4 linked regions of the Homo sapiens genome follow. The protein of the gene in region 2 purifies or fractionates together with the protein of the main gene of each other region. This does not show direct contact. Each region holds a gene or a part of one and is shown on either strand. Other genes may lie near its edges.

What was found. The genes of interacting proteins can lie anywhere in the genome.
Region 1: the proteins of PRPH2 (region 2) and ACSL6 purify together in Homo sapiens (affinity purification with mass spectrometry; one large-scale study listed by BioGRID and IntAct). This does not show direct contact.
Region 3: the proteins of PRPH2 (region 2) and PODXL2 purify together in Homo sapiens (affinity purification with mass spectrometry; one large-scale study listed by BioGRID and IntAct). This does not show direct contact.
Region 4: the proteins of PRPH2 (region 2) and ITPRIP purify together in Homo sapiens (affinity purification with mass spectrometry; one large-scale study listed by BioGRID and IntAct). This does not show direct contact.

The regions. Positions count from the first base shown.
Region 1 is NC_000005.10:132,000,816-132,005,893, forward strand, and holds part of ACSL6 (long-chain-fatty-acid--CoA ligase 6), read right to left. Parts: intron 3,849-5,078; exon of another isoform or gene 3,519-3,848; coding exon of another isoform or gene 3,500-3,518; intron 2,997-3,499; exon of another isoform or gene 2,758-2,996; intron 1-2,757. UniProt on the Homo sapiens protein: Catalyzes the conversion of long-chain fatty acids to their active form acyl-CoA for both synthesis of cellular lipids, and degradation via beta-oxidation.
Region 2 is NC_000006.12:42,711,478-42,716,555, forward strand, and holds part of PRPH2 (peripherin-2), read right to left. Parts: intron 463-5,078; exon of another isoform or gene 281-462; intron 1-280.
Region 3 is NC_000003.12:127,627,319-127,632,827, reverse strand, and holds the start of PODXL2 (podocalyxin-like protein 2 precursor), read right to left. Parts: upstream 3,644-5,509; 5' UTR 3,609-3,643; coding exon 3,539-3,608; intron 1-3,538. UniProt on the Homo sapiens protein: Acts as a ligand for vascular selectins. Mediates rapid rolling of leukocytes over vascular surfaces through high affinity divalent cation-dependent interactions with E-, P- and L-selectins.
Region 4 is NC_000010.11:104,310,990-104,315,200, forward strand, and holds part of ITPRIP (inositol 1,4,5-trisphosphate receptor-interacting protein precursor), read right to left. Parts: coding exon 3,419-4,211; 3' UTR 1-3,418. UniProt on the Homo sapiens protein: Enhances Ca(2+)-mediated inhibition of inositol 1,4,5-triphosphate receptor (ITPR) Ca(2+) release.

The DNA.
Region 1 (5,078 bases), on a different chromosome or scaffold from region 2:
AGGACAGGACCCAGTGCTCTGAGCTCCCTCTTGAAAGCTGTTTGCCCAATTGCCTGGCAAGTCTAGAGCCCACAGGCTTGCAACACCTTCCCTGGAGCAGATAACAGCTTCCACTACTCACCCTACCATCTGGGTGAGCCATGAGAAGAGCGTCCTGCCTCAGCGACCCTCATCTGGAACTTGGCCCTAGCTTCCCCCAACCCACCCCGATTAAAATGAACGAATATCTGAGCACCCCCGATCAGCCCACAAAGTCACTTCACCTTTCTTCTAGGCAGGACCCTTACTTTTCTCCAAATATCTTCAGAGATGCTTTTAATATGAAAGCTTCCTTTAATGCTTCTCAAGGCAGCCTCTGGGGCAGGAAATCCAGTGGTCTGTGGGAAATCCCACAGAGTGCCAGAGGCATAGAGCTGAGGGAGTAGTTTCACCCCAAGCAGTGTGCAGCCCAGTTGCCAGGTTGAGAAATGCACAGCCTTCACCATCACACATGTACAACCCTGACCTGCAGAGGTGCAAACACAGCAGCGCACACTTGCCCAACACCTGCCCTCTCCACACAGGGATTCAAGCTTCTCTCTGCTGTGAGAGAAGGGTTTGCTCTCCATTTTCCTCTTGGGTTTTAATTAGATTCACAGAACCACATAAGACCAGGGCAGAAATGGAGCAAAGAGCCTCCCTGACTTGGGAATTGCCAGGTGGGACCCACTGTACATCCCCCATGAGATAGAGGCCCAGGATACGATACGGGGTTGCCAGGTTACATGGTGGCTCACCTGCCAAGCTTCCCCAAGGAGCCTGATCATAGCTCTGATGGTTCAATTAAGCCCCTTGAATGTAGAAAGGCCCAGCTAAGGCTGGCTGTGACTGAGTACTTTACAGAGCCACCTGTTGCAACTAGCCCAAGCTCACTGTGAGCATGCCTCCCTTTAGCAGCCTCCACTGCCCGCTGGCCTCCCCATCCTCATGACAGTACCTCTCAAAAATCTCACTCACCCTAAGCCCTGCTCAGGGAATGTGGGTCCACATTCCTGATGCTAGCACCAGGAAGCCAGGCACAAACAATGCTTTCAGGAACTTTAAAATATGAATAGCCTTGAGAACAGAGGAGCAAACAGATACACAGTGTCTTTCACACGCTCTGAGATAAACGTTGCCCTCACCATGAATTAGGCAGGACAAAGTTCTCAGAGCAAAGAGGGACAGCAGGGGCTAAAAAAACAGCAGTAGTCCCTTTGGAAATATTTACAGGGTATGATAACCAGGACTGATGGTGTGGACGAGTTCAGATCCTTCCACGCCAAGCCCTGGGACAGCAGGCAGGACCCTAGGAATACTGACCAGGGTCACCATCACCTCACAGGCACAGGGACACTCCCTGGCCAGGCCCTCCTGTGCAGGAAGCCAAATCCTGTGGCTGTAACACGATCCTTTGCCTTTCCGGCCATGTCCACGTTAGGACTGCTGGTGTCCCGGCCTCAGGAGCAATGATTCATTTCTGCCACTGGCTCAAACTTAGGACACACTGCAAACTAAGCTTGAACCAGTAAAGGGCATATGGGCTGCTCATGGCGAGGCCATGCACTCAGAGCTCAACTGCAGGTGGCTGGGGTACAAGCAGGATGGGATGCGACCTCCTCCAGCTAGAGGGAAGCTCCTTGAAGTAGGGAGGGTCCTGCCAATATATGGTTGGGGGTCACTGAGGTGGGGGGAGCAACAGAGGGATTTGCTTGCCTGCTTGTTCACTTAGGAGCCCTGCTGGTCTCCTGGGGACACGTGCTAGGGGAGAAATGCACAAAAGACAGAACCTGAGACATCCTTAGCCAGGGAGGGAGAACAAGGAGAGGATCCGAGCTGGGTGGGAAAGGGTAGAGAACAGGGCTATCGAAGAGGGACAGAAGTGGGTTGGTAAGTCACAGGAAGAGCCTGTAAGATGTTGGGGCCCCTGGCAGGAGCCCTCACACAGTGGCGGGAAGGAGGCAGAGGCCTGTCTGCACTGAGGACTGGGGCAGGAAGCTGAGGCTGGCAGGATGGCACTTAGCTATGGGAGAAAGGAAAAAGATGGTGATGGGTACTGTATATCTGCCTCATGCCTTCAGAGTCACAGCCCACAAGCTAATGGCACTCAGCCCTGGGGATGCAAAAGTGCCCCAGGCAAGCTGTGCTCCTACATCCTTGGCAAAGGGATTGCTGCTGCAGCCAGGATCCGGCATGGCTCCTTCACCTACCATTCCAGAGTCACTGAATTTTTTTGTAGACTAGAAAGTGAGCAAGACAAAAAGAGTTTTGCCCTTGGTTAAGGGCACATTTTCTGGCAAATTTGGTAAATAGCTGAATATTCTGGCATCCCCATAGTCTGACAAAATTCCTCTTCTGAATGCCTCAAGAAGAAACAAATCTGAATTTCCTCCAGTTTAGCAAAAGGCTGTGCTGGTCAACGGGAATCTGCCACCTCCTGAATCCCCCCTCTGGAGGTCAGGCGGCACAGCAGCTGCAGCCTTAAGCTGCTCTCCCTCCGGCAGCAAGCGGTCAAGTTCTGCTGTTGGCCTGTGAGAGCCTACAGTGTCCACAGAGTTAACATTAGACTGGAGCGGCCCAGCCCTCAGCGGGCAGGAGCACTGGGAACTCAGGCCTCCTTTTCAAGGCCAGGATGAATGGGAAATATGCAAATGGCCGCCTCCCAGGAGCGGCAGGGGAGGGCCTGCTGCTGGCAGGAGGGCATCACTCCACTTGGGTCTGTCACATGAAAGGGTTTGTATTCCTGCCGCTGGCCGGCTCCTGGCCAGGCTGGGGCTGTTCTCACCAGAAAACAAAAATGTCTTTCAGACCAAAGCAAAACGAGGCCCCAGCTGGCCCAGGCAGGCCATTGGGCGTTGTTCACACTGACCCACTATGAACACCAATCACTGGGGCTCTCACTTTGCACCCACTGGAAGGAACCCATCATCTTTGGAGACGGAACTGGAGGCCTCGGTGGCTGCTGAGGAAAGCACTACGTAAGTTCGGGGGGATGGAGGTGGGATCCAGAAAGAGGGTCAGCCCCCTCTGAGGCTCTGTTGGTTTTGTGCTTTTCGAAAACAGTAGTGGCGGAATCTGGAGTAGCACCCTTTTTTTGGATAAGGAAACTTCAGTTATTCTCACAGTGTTGATGGTAAACATGGAGAAAGAAATGGGAAGAAAAAAGTGCTGGTACACAAGAAGACCCTGCAGTGCACAGAGAGGACTTTCAATAATGGAGGGCACGTGTGTCCTCTGCCTGGTGCCCACACTCCTGCTGCCACAAGTGCCCTCGAGTGGGAGGTGGGGATAAGGGCAGCCCAGAGCCCCATGTGCGGGATCACTAGCTTCCAGGGCTGGGGCTCCTTCTTCAACCAAGGCTCCATGCCAAGGTCAGGCTTCTATCCTTTTTTTTTTTTTTTGGCTGACTTTCAGCAGCCAGAACACTGCTTCTCTGACACCCCATGGTCACCAGGAGCTGCCTATTAACCACAGCACAGACCTTGTGCCCTGTGGAGCATGGATGCCACTCAGACTCCCACTACCAGGAGAAATAGCACAGCAAGATCTCAAGCACACATGTGGCCGTTGAGCCTGAGAGGACATCTAGGACAAAACCACTTTGGAGTTGATTTTGAACCAACAGGTGGGTTGGTGGATGCTCCACAGATCTCCTGAAATCCAAGGGAGATATGTCTTGTCAGCCTCTGGGGCTAAAGGAAACTGGTATTCGTTTGGGCCACACAGTATCTTCATGAAGCCAAGGTGCCAGGCATGTCTCTGTGAGAGGTCATGGAACTGTCCAGGGAGCAGAAGCAGGAGACAGAGGAGACAGGACACTTCAGAATGACCTAGAAAAGTTGGTTCCACAGGTCATAGCCTTCCATATCTGGTCTGTGGCAAGGAGATCGGGGACACATGCACCCAAATCCCCTACCAGCCTACTGGATGGGGGAAGGCCCAACCTCCATTTCTCTCTAAACCCTCCCTGCCACCACAGACAGACCTAGGCTTAGGGGAGTTGGCCTACAGAATATGCATGAGTTGGCTGGGCATGGTGGCTCACACCTGTAATCCCAGCACTTTGGGAGGCTGAGATGGGTGGATCACCTAGATCACCTGAGGTCAGGAGTTTGAGAACAGCCTGGCCAATGTGGTGAAACCCCGTCTCTACCAAAAATACAAAAAAATTAGCCGGGTGTGGTGGCAGGCACCTGTAATCCCAGCTACATGGGAGGCTGAGGCAGGAGAATCACTTGAACCCAGGAGGCAGAGGTTGCAGTGAGCCAAGATCACGCCATTGCACTCCAGCCTGGGCAACAACAACAAAGCTCTGTCTCAAAAAAAAGAAAAAAGAAAAAAAAATGCGTGAGTTGAAGGTGTCCTCAGAGAATCACATCCAGCCCATCTGCTGGAAAGCACAGTCACGATGAACACTGAAGTTCTCCAGCCACTAAGCAGGGTCCTGGGGTCTATGTGGCTTCATGCAGCATCAGCTCTAGTGGCAGGGCAGAGTGGCCAGAGCTTCCCTTCCAAAGCAGAGGGGTCACTGCAGGCCTGGATGGGTCTCCACTGAGTCTACTTTCTCCATACTGACAATTGTCTTCCTCTCACTGGCCTAAAGGCCTTAAGGCCTTACTCCAGCCAACCTCCCTGTCCAATCTCACTGGCCGGCTCACATGCCACCTTGCTGATCTCTGTCCCAGCTCTAACTGTCCTTGCTGTGTAGCCTCTAGCTGCCCTTTCTATCCAATATCTAGTTGACCTCACTGTCTCTCCCAGTGACATTTCTGCCTGTTTATGAGGCAGGATCTGCAGTCAGTATCTAGAATGGTCTGCAGCAAAGCTAAGGCTGGGACAGGGGTGCGTGGGCAGGAGGAGTCCCACGGGGGAGTCTCAGCCCCTACAACAGTCCATGAGTTGGAGGGAAAAGCAGAGCTTTGTAGCAGAGCTGAGTCTTGATCAGTCCCTTGGAATCCACATCCTGCACTGGTGGGCCAGGCTGTGCTGAGAGTGAGGCGGGGTCCCAGGCACTGGTCAATAGGGTCTGTCCCAGAGCTGCCCAGTCAACCTGGGCCTAC
Region 2 (5,078 bases):
AGTCTGAGGGGAGATGCAGCCCTGTCTTCAGGGGACCCTAGTTTGAGGGAAACACAGCCCCATCCTCAGGGAGCCCCGGTCTGAGGGGGACACAGCCCCATCCTCAGGGAGCCCTGGTCTGAGGGGAGACATAGCCCAGCCCTCAGGAAGCCCCAATTTGAAGGGGAGACACAGCTCTCTTCAAAGAGTTCCCGTCTGAGAGGGGAGAAACCCCATAGAGTCAAGTTCTAATCTTCTCCTTGAGATGTCTACGAATTGTTTAAGAAGAGCAAGCAGGTACCTGTAGTCTGTGGGTTCCCTGGGAAGAATGGTGAAGAGCAAGAGCTTGGTGCCAGCTTCTCCCTCAGACTGGGGACCCCAGGCTGGGCCTTCCTGGCTGGTAGTTCCTGGTTCCAAAATGTCTGAGCTCCCGCATGTTCTACCTCTCACCCCAAGACACTGCAGCTCTGCTCATCCTGCAACCTTTAAAAGAAGTGTTGTAAACTGACTGAAGACCTCATGTCCTTCCTCATGTGCTACGGTAAGATACACAGAGCGGCACTGTAGGAAATGTTCTTGCCACAACTGAGCCTGATCCAACCATACCTCGACCCAGACTACTGGTTTATGAGGAAATACAGGGGACAGAAGAACAAGTTAGACAACACCATTTGGCTGCAATTGCCCAACTCCAAACTATGGGGGATTCTGCAGGACACGTGGCCCAGTTTCTCTCACACATATGGTATGAAAAAGGGGACAGTTTTCTAGTAAAACAGACAGGAAACCAAACAACCAAATGCAAAGCATGGACTTGGTTTGGATCCTGAATTGACCAACTGTAAAAAGCATTCCGAGACTATCAGGGAAAACTGAACATAGACTGGGTATTGATTGATATTGCCATTAAATCTGTTGACTATGACTGGTCTTGTGCTTATGTTCAGCAGAAACAAAAGGGCAAAAAACAACTAAAGCCTCTTTATCTGTTGGAGATGCCTATTAAAGTATTTACAGGTAAAAGGAAAGTATGTCCAGGATTTGCTTTAGGATATTCAGAAGGGGAAAATGTGTTTGGGGGAGGGTAGTATAGATGAAACAGGCAAAATATTGATATTTGTTCCTAGGTGATGGCTAGGTGATAGGGACGGGGTTTCACCATGTTGGCCAGGCTGGTCTTGAACTCCTGACCTCAGGTGATCCACCCGCCTCAGCTTCCCAAAGTGCTGGGATTACAGGCATGAGCCACTGTGCCCAGCCTGTTTTTTCCTTTTTTTTTTAGAGACCTTGTGCTCAAGTGATCCTCCCACCTCAGCCTCCAAGTAGCTGGAGTTACAGGTGTGTTGCCACCACACCTGGCTAGGTGATGGCTACATGAGAATTAATTATAATGAACTCTCTAATTTTGTGAAAGCTTGAGTTTTTTCTATAATAGAAGTCGGAAATGCAATAAAATAAGATAAAAGAGCATCAGTTGAGAACTACAGGCCTGGCACAGTGGCTCATGCCTGTAATCCCAGCACTTTGGGAGGCCAAGGTGGGTGGATCACCTGAGGTCAGGAGTTCGAGACCAGCCTGGCCAACATGGTGAAACCCTGTCTCTACTAAAAATATAAAAATTAGCCAGGTATGATGGTGGGCACCTGTAATCCCAGCTACTTGGGAGGCTGAGGCAGGAGAATTGCTTGAACCCTGGAGACAGAGGTTGCAGTGAGCCGACATGGTGCCACTGCACTCCAGCCTGGACGACAGAGTGAAACTCCATCTCAAAAAAAAAAAAAGAGAAAGAACTACAAATCTCTTTCACTGATACCTTGCTCTGAAAAGACAGAGTCAGTGAGGGAGACAGCATTCCTGGACTTGGCTCCTCCCTCTGAGAGCCTCCTCCAAGTGTAGCAGGAAGTGTGTCCCCCTCTTCCTGGCCCACCCAGGACCACCAGGCCAGGGGAGGGAGATGTGGGAGGTTGAAGCCCAGTGACAGCCCCATTTACCACAGGCGCCGCAGAGCCCGGAATGGTGTTTCTAGTTTCTGTGGGGCCACCTCGTTATTATCTGAGACGTTGGCACAGAAGCACTGGAATCCGAACCTAATCCATCCATGTTTTCCAACCCTGCATCATCTCTGCCCACCCCTTTCCCTGTCCTTCTTGGAGAGGAAATGGAGAAGAAGAAGACAGGGAAAGGCCGGGAGCGGTGGCTCACACCTGTAATCTCAGCACTCTGGGAGGCCGAGGCAGGAAGATCACCTGAGGTCAGGAATTTGAGACCAGCCTGGCCAACATGGAGAAACCCCGTCTCTAGAAAATTACAAAAATTAGCTGGGCGTGATGGTGGGTGTCTGTAATCCCAGCTACTCAGGAGGCTGAGGCAGGAGAATCGCTTGAACCCGGGAGGCGAAGGTTGCAGTGAGCCAAGATCACACCACTACACTCCAGCCTGGGTGACTGAGCAAGACTCCATCTCAAAAAAAAAAAAAAAAAAAAAAAAAAAAGACAGGGAAAGACAGGGAGAAGAGGGAGAAAAGCAAGACTTCCCGTACCCCAAGCAGCCTGGATAATTTGAGGTTTCTGTCACTCAGTGAGCAAACATTCATTTAATGCCGAATGTATGCAAGAGGTACTTTAACATCGCTGGGAAACAGGAGAGTAAGGTGAAAAGAGCAGAATTAAAATCTGACATGCCATATAATGGAATATTATTTCACCATATAAAGGAATTAAGTTCTGATATACGCTACAACATGGATTAATTTTGAAAACACTATGCTAAGTGAAAGAAGGCAGACACAAAAGGACAAATGTTATATGACTCATTCATATGAAATGTCCAGAACAGGGAAATCTATAGATACAGAAAGTAAACGAGTGGTTACTTAGGGCTAGGGGGAGGGAAGGCTAGGGAGTGAAAGCTAAATGGTGTAAGGTTTCCCTTAGAAGTGATGAAAATGTTCTAAAATTGATTGTAATGCTGGTTGTCCGACTGTGAATATACTAAAAACCATTGAATTGCATACTTTTAATGGGTACATTGTATAGTGAGTGAATTATATCTCAATAAAGCTGTTTTTTCTTTTTGTTTGAGACAGGGTCTCACTCTGCTGCCCAGGCTGGAGTGCAGTGGTGCAATCTCAGCTCACTGCTGCCTCAATTTCTTGGGCTCAGGTGATCCTCCCACCTTAGCCTCCCAAGTAGCTGAGACTATAGGCACACACCACCACACCTAGCTAATTTTTGTATTTTTTTGTAGAGATGGGGTTTCACTATGTTGCCCATGCTGGTATCGAACCCCTGGGCTCAAGTGATCCATCCACTTCAACCTCCCAAAGTGCTGGGATTACAGGTGTGAGCCACCACATGTGGCCGAAGCTGATTTTCTTTTTTTGTCTCCCCCACTTCCTATTGTGTGATCTTAGACATGTCCCTTAACCTCTTGGGCCTCAGATTTCTCATATATAAAATGGAGCTAATAATACCAGCTGGGTGCAGTGGCTCACGCCTATAATCCCAGCACTTTGGGGCTGAGGTGGGTGGATCACTTGAGGTCAGGAGTTCGAGAGCAGCCTGACCAAATGGTGAAACCCCATCTTCACTAAAAATACAAAAATTAGCCAGGCGTGCTGGCACATGTCTGTAATCCCAGCTACTCAGGAAGTTGAGGCAGGAGAATCGCTTGAACCCGGGAGGCGGAGGTTGCAGTGAGTCGAGATCGTGCCACTGCACTCCAGCCTGGGTGACGGGGCAAGACTCTGTCTCAAAAAAACAAACAAACAAACAAAAACTAAAAAAGATTAAGACAAAAACTTCCCAGGAGGAGTTTTGTGCAGGATAAATGTGGGTCATTTCCCCCTCCCAAATGACTTGGCAACACGGTCATAGGCAGGTTGGGGATGGGGTGCAGTCACTGGGCTACTCCCCTAAGACAGAGCAGCCAAAACTCAGGTGCAGTGGCTCACACCTGTAATCCCAGCAATTTGGGAGGCCGAGGCAGGCGGATCACTTGAGGTCAGAAGTTCGAGGCCAGCCTGACCAACATGGTGAAACCCCGTCTCTACTAAAAATACAAAAATTAGCCAGGTGTGGAGGTGCACGCCTGTAATCCCAGCTACTTGGGTGGCTGAGGCAGGAGAATCTCTTGAACCCAGGAGGTGGAGGTTGCAGCAAGCTGAGATCGTGCCACTGCACTTCAGCCTGGGTGACAGAGTGAGACTCCATTTCAAAAAACAAAACAAAACAAAACAAAAAACTCTTGTAAATTCCCATAAAAATATGGAATTGTTTCTGCCTGATCTTATTCATTAGATCAGGAATCTTCAGGAGCCAGTCCTGGATCTTAAAGATTCCCCTGAGAAATCTCCAAAACCTGCCCGCCCCTCCATGCTTACTGAGGCAATGCACTCTATCCTCAGGTTTCTGGGGGGCCCCAAGGAGGGGCACAAGTGGGGAGGTCCTAGGGAGGCCAGAATGCAAGCACCCAGCTCCTCCTCTCAGGAACTGGACTGAAGATGCCAGAAAGTGAGGACCTCAACTTTCTCTAGCCCAGTCCGGTGAAGTGCCCACTGCACAGAATGGAAAGTTATTCCAGGAACAGAGCCTGCAGAAATGCCTGGAAATCACTGTCACCAGACACCGCCCATGCCCAGTCTGTGTCAGAGGAGGATCCCTGTGGATTTTCTCCAGGCTACCCATGCTCAGACCAGCTCATTCTCCTGGGATCGCTTCCCCACAGTCCTCAGGTCAAGTAGGAGAAAGAGGCTCACCCGAACCTCTTTGTTGGCTCATCCAAATTTGATGGGGAGAGGGGAAACAAAAAAAAGGAGAATTCTGCCTGGCATGGTGGTGGGTGCCTATAATCCCAGGTACTCTGGAGGCTGAGGTGGGATGGTTGCTTGAAACCAGGAGTTCAAGACCAGCCTAAGCAACAGAGTAAGACCCTATCTCTATTTTTTTTTTTTAAGAAAAGAATTTTTTTTCTTTTTTTTAAGGCAGGGTCTCACTCTGTCACCCAGGCTGGAGTGCAGTGGCACAATCTTGGCTCACTGCAGCCTTGACCTCCCAGGCTCAACGGATTCTCCCACCTCAGCTTCCCAAGTAGCAGGGACC
Region 3 (5,509 bases), on a different chromosome or scaffold from region 2:
TGTGCCAAACAGTGTGTTAGGCCCTTCCTGGAGGTGCAACAAGAGACAGATGAACAAGAGACAGGCTTTGCCCTCAGGAAAATTACAAACTCTTGGGAAGTGGAACCCTAAGTTCTTTAGGGGATATGAGCCGATGTAGCAGACTGCTTTGCAAAAGCAGTATCCCCAGGGCTGGCAGGGAGCCAAAATACAAGAAACAAATCTGGAAAAACTCATTCATGCATTCCAGGAAGAAAAAAGTCAACTGATGGAAAATGTTTATAATAATTAAATAATACACATTGTATAGGTTCCCGGGGCACCCGGGCAGCCTGCCTTTGAGAGGGCCATGAACTGGAGATCTGTATCTGCATGCTCCAACCTCCAGCAGGTATGCTGGGAAAGATATTACTTCAGCCTTGTTAGAAAAGTGTAAACTGATTCTCCCTAAGAATTTTGAAATTCACTCTCTACAAAACCACTGAAGGATTAAACACGGGTTGTCTCTCAAACCTTGGCACTCTCTCTCGGAGCTGAACTGTGGCATGGCAGGGAGAGGCTGTGGCATGGCAGGCGGGGAGGCTGCTGCCGTCTACACCCTACTCTGGCTCCTCGGAATGGCTTGGAACTCAAGAAGACTGCTCTGCCCTCTCCAGGTCATTGTGCCCAGAGGAGCCTGTTTCCTTCCCCACTCTGGGGGATAAAACACTTTCTAGTCAGTCCAGCTGTCTGTGCACAGTACTGTGGTCTGGTGTGTTTGCTAGGCCCCTTCCCTGTCATTTCCATGGCTCCAGTGAGCCCCCACCTCTCTGAGCTCTCCCACCTGTCAAGCCAGGAACCCATAACCTTCCTCTAACATCTCTCCCTTTCCTTCTTTGTCTTCCCTTCCCAATGGTCTAATAGGAATTGGCAAAGATTTTGAAAACCCTACTGAAGAAAAAGGAATCTGGTATTTTCCCGGTTTTTCATTCCTTTTCCAGTAAACAGTTTCATTTTCTTAAAGTTATTTTTCCCTCTAATGACTGTTTTGTCTTTACATAGAACTTGATATTTTCAAAGGCCTTGGCAATGGGTATTTATTTAAGTAATTACAAGAGGTTACTTATTTTCAAACTTGCCCACCATAAGATGACACCAAAATAGTAGCTGAGACATAGCCATTCTGTGTATAATTAGTTTTGCACTTAATAATTAATCTGCCTTAATTGAGACCCCACCTGACTTAAAATTTCAGAATTACACTCTGCGTGTGATTGATTTCCTTTTTCCCTCTAGCACCTATAATTTTCTGTTACATCATCACACCCAACAGAGGAGAGAGAAAAAGATGGCACATGAAAAGGATTAGGGGATCAGCCTCAAAGAAATGAAAATCTGACCCAAACAAACACAGAAGGAGGCAAAGGAAGCAGGCTGACATTTGGGGAGGTGAAAAAAACAAGACCCCAGCGATCCTCATGTTTTATCTTACCTTTTCAAATCAGTCCCTGTGATCTGCTCCCGGTGCAAAACTCCTTTCTGATTTCCACCATCAGCTACACCCCACCTCTCCCCTAAGCAGGGTCTTTGAAGTCCAGTCTCCCTAAGCTCTTGGCAGACACCAACATGGGAGGGGCCCTGCAGCATCTGTCACACAGCTCCTCACCCTTAAGTGTCAGCGACAACAGGAACTGCTGAGCACAGTCACGCTACCTCCACTCTGTAAGCACCTGAGAAACAATGCTGACAGGTCCCTGAAGGGCTTCCACACAAAGGTGTGTAAGAAAGAGACACACTGCTAGACACACGCACATGCCCTCCAAGCAGGGGGTAAGAAGTGCGTCATGAAGAGCATGCACGGGAGAGAGGAGCCGGGAGGCAGGCTGCCTGCAGTCCTCACAGCTGGTCACATAAGCACATGGGCAGTTACAGCTGGGCCTGGGTCCATGAGGACGTTGCTGGCCAGTTCTGGTTTATGACTGTCACACAAAGAAATAGCAGACCAATCAATTGATGTTTATTTATTGAATGTCGCCTTTTTCCAAAGAGGATTTACGGCGTGAAAGAATACAGGTGGGTTTGTGTGAGTGTCTGAGCCAACACTGATGGACATGTTTTTCTGTGCACACCACCTAGGGCCTTTCTTCATCCCTAGACTGACTGTGGAGAAAATGTACCCTCCCTGAACTGAGCCTTCCCATGACATGCACAGGAATGTGCGAGGGACCACTTTCCCCTCCCAGCCATTTACCCTGGGATTCTGCCACTCTGAGTCCCAGGTTCATGGCCCACCTCAGGCAAAGACTGTTCCTCCCTTCCCATAGAGACCCTTCACTAGTTTCTCTTTCACTCACACACATCTGGACACAAAGTGCCTGTGTCTTCATGGGCCAGCTGCGTGGGAAATGTCCTGTGCACACTCCTACATGCACATACACACTCCTACATGCACATACACACATCATACTAGGACGCTATTTTGACGTGTGCATCAGAAGTGAAGTTACAGCTGGCTGATGAGTGTGCACAGGCACACATGCACACTTCCTCATCCGGGTATTCCTCCAGCAGCACCAGTCACACCTTAACATACACCGTAACACACTCCCTCTGCTCTGCCAGTGTGTGCAGGAGCTGCTCAGCTATGACCTTATTTGACCCACCTTTGCAGACAGCCCTTCTCCCCGCCATTTCCATAGTGGCCGCCTGCCTCATGGGCTGTCACACCCCATGCCCACCTCCCTACACACCCCCTCCACTAAATCCCCGTCTGCGCTGGAAGCCATCAGGAGGCCCGTCTCTTTCTCTCTCAGGCAGACACATCCCTTTCACACCTGTGCCACACCCCCAGCCCGCCACGCACCCACACAGCCCGCCGCCCGGCGTGGCTGCTGAATGGAAACCACACATCTGAGTCTCACACCTCCCTCGTGTGTGAGCTGCGTGGGAGCCTCCCGCCGTGTGCTGTCACGGGCCTTCCGTGGCTGTACGCCCGTTTTTGTCAGCTCCTAATAGAGTCGCCCAGAACAGGAGAGAATACCCATTCACCGTGACACACTCACACTCCCTCCCGGCAACGCCACGCGTAAACAGCCACCCGCGCCTCAGCGTACCCGCCCCACACTCCGCAGGCGGCCCCTGGGACCTTCACAATGCGGCCTCCTCCCCGCGTGGCTGTCACACACGCCTCTTCCCCCGAGTGCGCAGGCACACAATGCACTCGCACACACACAAGCACACGCACACACATGCACACCCACACGTGCGCGCCCCCCCGGCCCGCGAGGCAGCAGCCTGCGCACCTGCCCCTGAGAGCCGCGGCGTGGGGGCCACGGTGCTGTGTCCCAGCTTCACCGCCGCGCCTTTGTCGGGGGTCGCCCGGCACGCCAGGCGCCCGCCGCGGCCCCCACGCACCCACTCCTCGTGCGCGTGTGTCGGGGCGGCGCCGCGGCCCGGCCGGGACACGCGCGCTCCCGGCGGCGCCGCACTCTGGCCCCTTTGTTGGCGGCCCGGGGAGCTGTCCAGCACCGCGCCCACGCCGCCGCCCGCCCTCCCGCGCTCGGGCCCGGAGCGCACTCACCCCCAACCAGCAGAAGCAGCAGCGGCGAAAGCAGCGGCGGCAGCCGGGCGGCCCGCAGCAGCCGGCCCATGGTGTAGCCGTCGCCGCCTGCAGCCGCAGCGGCGCGGCGCCCGGGCCCGCGTCAGGGGCCGCGCGGGCGGCGGCGGCGGCGCGCGCCCGCCCCATTGGTCCGCATGGCCGTCACTCACGCCCGGCCCCGCCCGGCCGCGTGCCGCGGGCGCGCCCCCGCGGAGACGAAGCGGACGCGCGGGCGGCCGTCCCTCCGCCCGTCCCCCCCGCCAGGCCGGCCAATCAGCACCGCCGAGGCTCGGGGGCTTGGCCCGGCCGCCCGCAGACCTGGGCCTCGCACCTCGCGCCCGGATGCCGCTCTCTCCCCGCGCGGTCACCCGTTCCCTGGGAAGCAGAGTGGGCAGCTGTGGCAGATGGGACTGATGGGACGAGGACGACGCGTGGAAATGACTGTGAGGGTGGACAGAGGCCTGGGGTAAGGAAAGACTTCTCAGGGTACTTAGATTGGGTGAGCCCTGAAGGAGAACCTGAGAGCAAAGAACTGGACTTTAGAGCTAGGCAGTCTGGCTCAGGATCAGATTGGTTCCGAGACCTTGAGTAAATCTCTTCTCACCTCTGGGCCCCACTTGCCCCATTTGCTAACTGGGGGGTTTTAGATTATGAGAGAGGTGCTGACTTCTCTAACATGTGCTCCCTTTTGGCAACTGAAGATCCTTAATATGCCAAGCACTGTAGTGGTAAATAAAACAGGCACATCCCTCGTCCTCATAGTTTAGGCTCGTAGAGAAAACAGACTGAAAAACAAAATGGACACACATATGGTCCTATGATTGCAATTGGTAGTCGGTCTGTTAAGGAGTATAAGGGGCTAGGAGACAGCACAGAGGGGAACCTTATGCTTGCCTTCCTGAAGAAACAGCATTTAAGGTAAGCTGGCTGGCATCTGGAAGGATGAGTGGGTATTAGGTAGGAGATTGGGTTTGGGAGAGAACTTACAAGGCAGAGGGAAAAGCTCACTGATAGAGTTCCTGAGTTAGAAAGAAGCTCAGCCTCTTTTAGGGAGAGAAAAACCCCGACTACCCTTTTAGAAGTACTGCAGCTTAAATATACAGCAACCACAATTTTGTGGAATGTTACTTTATATATACCATATTAGGAAAACACTTCTTTAAAATAACAAATCGTTATTTGAATATGCTTTTTCAAAGTATATCCCCACCCCCCTATGCAGGGGTATAGCATCAGACATTGGAGATAATCTCACGGGACTCTTCCAGACTAAATATTAATACTTAGGAGAAATAGGAGTTGGGGTGGAGGAGCATAGGGAAGAAATGGGTTCCAGACAAAAGAAAGAACATGAGCAAAATGTAGCACCTTTTATTTGGTGGGTGTTAGGGGTACTAGAAAAGTGGCTGTCAGCTGGGCTTGGAAAAGAGAAATCCAGGGTGTGTCTAGACCCAGCTTCCCTCTTCTTTCCTCCTCTGAGGATGAAAGGAGCATCCCTTTGGTTTTTTGTTGTGTTTTGTTTTGTTTTTCTGTTACAAGAAACAAAGATCTTAGAAGCAAACAAGAAATGGAAGGAAACGTCCTCAATTCCATTAAGGGTATCTCCCAGAAACCTTTATTATCATACTTAATGGTGAAACCATACTTAATGATGAAACATTAGAAACATTCTCTTTTAAGTGAATGGAACAAAATAATCCTCACTACCACCACAATGATTGAATATTCTATAAGAGACACTGCAACAAGGCCTGATAGAAGAAATGGGATGAAAGTATTGGGGGAAAACTCATTATTTGCAGGTTTATCTAGAAAATGCAAGATCATCAGTTGGCAAAATAATTGAAAACCAATGAGTTCAGCAAGATTGCTGAATAAAAGATAACGTACAGAAATCAATAGCTTTTCTGTGTATCCTCAATAACCACTTAGAAAATGTAGTAGGAGAAAAGA
Region 4 (4,211 bases), on a different chromosome or scaffold from region 2:
ACTTGGAAGGCCACCTTCTGCTGCCTCTCCTAGGGAACAGGCTTGGTCCTATTCATTTTCCCATCTTCCACAATGTCTCATGCACGTTAGGCTCCTGACAAATGCTTGTGGACTATTCATGACCTGCTTGGGAGAAGGGCTCACCATCTTATGCCTTCCCACCCTCTCTCTGAGGCTTACGGCACTAGCGTGAATGTGGGTGCCCTCATGAGAAGCTTGTGGTGTAGCTGATGCCACTTAGACCACAGATTCCAAGCAGGCTCATTGGCTTTTCCCAGGTCTATCTATCTTCCAATAGATCTGTAGGGAAAGTAGTCCACTTGGGTTTTCTTTAACTTTCCATTAAGAAAGAAAGTGAGAGGGCTTCCTCAGCTAGGGGTACCATCAGTCACTTGGGGGAAATCTTTAAAAATCGAGCCTAGCCTGACCACTCCAGACTGGATTCTGAGCACCATGTAGGTTCAAGGCGGGGTCGGGGCAATGGACCAGGTTGTCTGGGTGATTCGGATGACACCCTTGATGATGAACCAGAGCTCCACCCCCAGGTTCTCAACGGGGGCTGTGCTTCAGCCAGGCATGCAGAGGGGCTAGAGCTTTTGAGGATATAAGGCCCTTCCCCAACATAACCAGCCTCTTGGCCTAGGGGCCAACTCTATTCATTTCACCCTTGTTATTTTGCAAAGCAAGTGAGCAGTTGCTGGGGAAAGTCAAGCATCCTTGGGAAAGAGACTCTGGGGAAAGAGGGCAGGGTTGTCCTTAGTGGAAAGGCCAAAGTCCCCTAGAGGACTCAAAATCCTCTATTTAAAATACAATCTCTTTCTTTAAAACCCAAAAGCTTCCTGTTAGTTCCAGCTCCTATATTTCTCGCTGACATTAGCTCTGTGAAATAAGGTCTTAGGCTGGAATCCACCCTACAGCCAGCTTTCAAAGGCCCTTTCTGGAGCCCTGCGGGCAGCACACAAGTTGCCTCAAAGACAGGGTAGAAATGTTCTGTTTTGTTATTTTTTAAAGTCTCCTGAAAGTGTAAGAATAAAAAGGGAGTGAAAGCTTCTGCTTTGTCAATAGGAAATCCACCCCCCTGTCCCCAACTCTGCCCTGGGAGCCTCACAGATTTCCTGAAGTTAAAAACAAACAGTGACCATTTCTACTCCTTGCAAGATTTAATTCTTCCTTTAATATAAATAAGGCAGCATGAAACACCAAGAGCCCCACTGCTTTCTGCTTTAGAAGCAGCTTTGGTGCAGAAAAGATTCCCGTTTCCCCACCGAGTTCTGTTGTCTCTGTACACACAAGAAGCCAGAAGATATTTTTTTTTCAGTGAACTTTCTCCTGGAAGCAAAGGAGAAGCTATGGGAGATCCAGGCATGGTTTTGGCTTCTGGAGGCTGTTTTTTGGTTACTGGGGTCTCTTCAAAGCAAAACGGGATCAGGATGAAGAGGGGGAAAGGCATGGGCCATAAATAAATAAGGAAATTTGCCCCGATTCTACAAATGCATCTGATGGAATGAGGAGGGTCAGGCTGTGAGGGATTGGGGGTAGCTCCAGGCTGCTGTTAGGGACACACTTGAGCTGGTTCATTCCCTGGAGTGCCCCGCAACTGCGTCTAGGGAGAGGCAGGCCCAAGCACATGTTCAGTCTAATTCCAGCTCACACTGGAAGGCTTCCTATAGGTTTGGTTGCCCTGATCACAGCCGAGCTGCCCCACCAGGAATTAACCCTGGTGGGCAAAGGGTCCATCTTCTCAAGCTTTCTGAGGCTGGTTGAGAGCACTCCTGGGGATGGGGGAAGGATCTCCTTCCTTCAGTTTGTGGGGTAACTGGGCACCCCTGTCAAGTTGGTTATGCTCTCGGGAAGGCATGGCCGGCTTAAACCCTGGAGGAACACGGTATATTCTTGACTCCCTGGCCCCCTGCAAGGGTAACTGAAGTAACGGTGAGATAGGAAATCTCAAAGGGCCAGTGAAGCCACAGGTGGAAAAGAGCCTTCCTGATCCCCCTGAACCAGACCTGGAGACGGAGCCCAGCTCCAACCACAGAGCTTCTGCCAGGCTCTTTGGGTCTGGGTCATCTGTGTGGTCAGCAGTGCCCACACAGAAGGGGTGGGTTCTGTGCAGTGAGGGAGCCCCGCTGGAGTGAGGAACTAGGGGCTCAGAGCCTGCAGACTGGAGCTAGGTTTCCATAGTTCTTGCTTCCATGCACACCCTGCCCTAGGATTGGGACCCTGAGGACAACCTGGGGCTATGACATCCTTGGCCCCTGATCTCTGCAACTTTCTCTGAACTGGGCCAGACTGCAAGCCAGACACCACCACCCCGGGTAGCATTTTTGAGCACCTCATCGAAGGAGTCTACTGTCTTACAGCAGAGACTTCGCTGCAGGACGCAGGGCCAGAAGAGGTTGAGAGGCTTGGCTCTGCGCACAGCCTCTGGGAGTGCCATGGCCTCAGGTGCCTTGTGGTTGCCAATGAAGAAGTGATAGAGTTTCTTTTCCAGCTGTCCTTTGCCACAGTCACCCCGTGTGTCTCTTTCTCCAGGTCAGCTTCCACCTTTAGCATCTGTCCTCCCCCTACCACAATGATAGTCAGAAAGACCAGCTTTGGAGAGAATAAAGAGAGGTGGGGGGCTGCTGAGCTGGCACCCAGTGTGGCAAATACCCACCACGCTCGGGACCCAGTACGTTGGGGAAAGGACAGCAGAAGGGGGTGCACCTGAGTGAGAAGTGTAGGGTGCAGCTGAGTGAGAAGTGTAGCTGAAAAAGTGGCTAATTGTGTTTCTCTATGCCACCAAGTACCCATTTCCGTGTGACAGAGACGTTAGTCATTTGGGCCTCGAATTTATACAAGGTCTTTTCTCCAAATAGTATAAAAAAGTGGCAGCCATGGTGGGACCACTATTGTGCAGGATGCGGATCAAAGGTGGACATTCCCATATCTGTCCCTGTTAGTGCTTTGGCTGCAGATGGTCAGGCCAGAAGCTCCTGGGAATAGGGGTGCTGGGTCTTAACACGGTTCCCTGTCAGCATTCTTGTAGATCCTCTGCTCATATTCAAGTACAGACTGGATCTGGGATTCAAAAAGAATTACACCCAATCCAACATTTGCATTGTCTCTAACTCAGGGTCCACAGCGTGTTCTGCCACCATCTTGGCCATTCATGGTGATCCAGAAGTAAACTGCAAGGGATCAGTCCCTAAACCCAAATAACAGCTTTACCAGCAGATCCCAATGGTATGAAGCAAACCAGCTTCCCGTTGAAATTCTGTTTCCTCTGCACTGTAGGGCTTGGCTTCCTGGCAGGCTGAGCACGGCTCCCACGAAAGCCCGCCTTGTCCCCAGAACAGGGCTGGCAGATGCCACCAGGGGTGTGAACGTGAGGGATGCCCTCATCTTAGCTCGAGGATCCCACATTCTGTAAAAGACGTCAGCTTTTTGGGGTAGGCTGGTCTGAGGGGACATGTAGGGAATACTCGCTAATGAGCGCTGGGGCATTCTTGAGCATCTCATAGAAGGAGTCCAGTGTCTTACGGTAAAGGCTTCGCTGCAGGACGAAGGGCCGGAAGAGGTTGAGGGGCTCGGCCCTGAGCACGGCCTCAGGGAGTCCCATGGCCTCAGGCACCTTGCGGTTGCCGATGAAGAAGTGGTGGAGCTTCTTCTGGAGCAAGCTCTTCTCCAGGAAGCACAGCAACTCGTGCAGACGAGCGTCCAGCTGCCCCGCCTTCCAGTCGGCGGCCTGCCGGAGGAGTAGGAGGTGCAGTAGGGCCGTCTTCAGGTGGTAGCTGCTGAGCCCGCTGGGACCGGTCAGGCGGCTCTGCTTGGAGAGCAGGAAGGATGCTATCTGCAGGCAGCTGAGGTGGCAGGCGCCCTCGGGCAGTGCCTTTAGTGTCGTCCTGAGGAAGTGTCGCTCATAGACAGCAAAGGACAGGAGCCAGTCTGTGCTGGAGGCTGGGGTGCCCTCAGAGGGCTCCCTGGGAAGGTGGGAGACAAAGTACAGGTCCGAGTCATCACACTGGATCACAGGAATCAGGTTGAAGGGCATGAACTTCCCTGAACGGAACTTGATCTTCAGGGACCCCGGGCTGTCCAGCTGGCCAAAGGCCAGGTCGAACTCGTACTTGTGGGCGATGCCCTTCCAGGCTCTGGTGAGGGCCGTCTGGAACCACTTCATGACCTGCATCGTGTCCAGGTACAGGGAATCTGTGGCACACAGCAGGTTC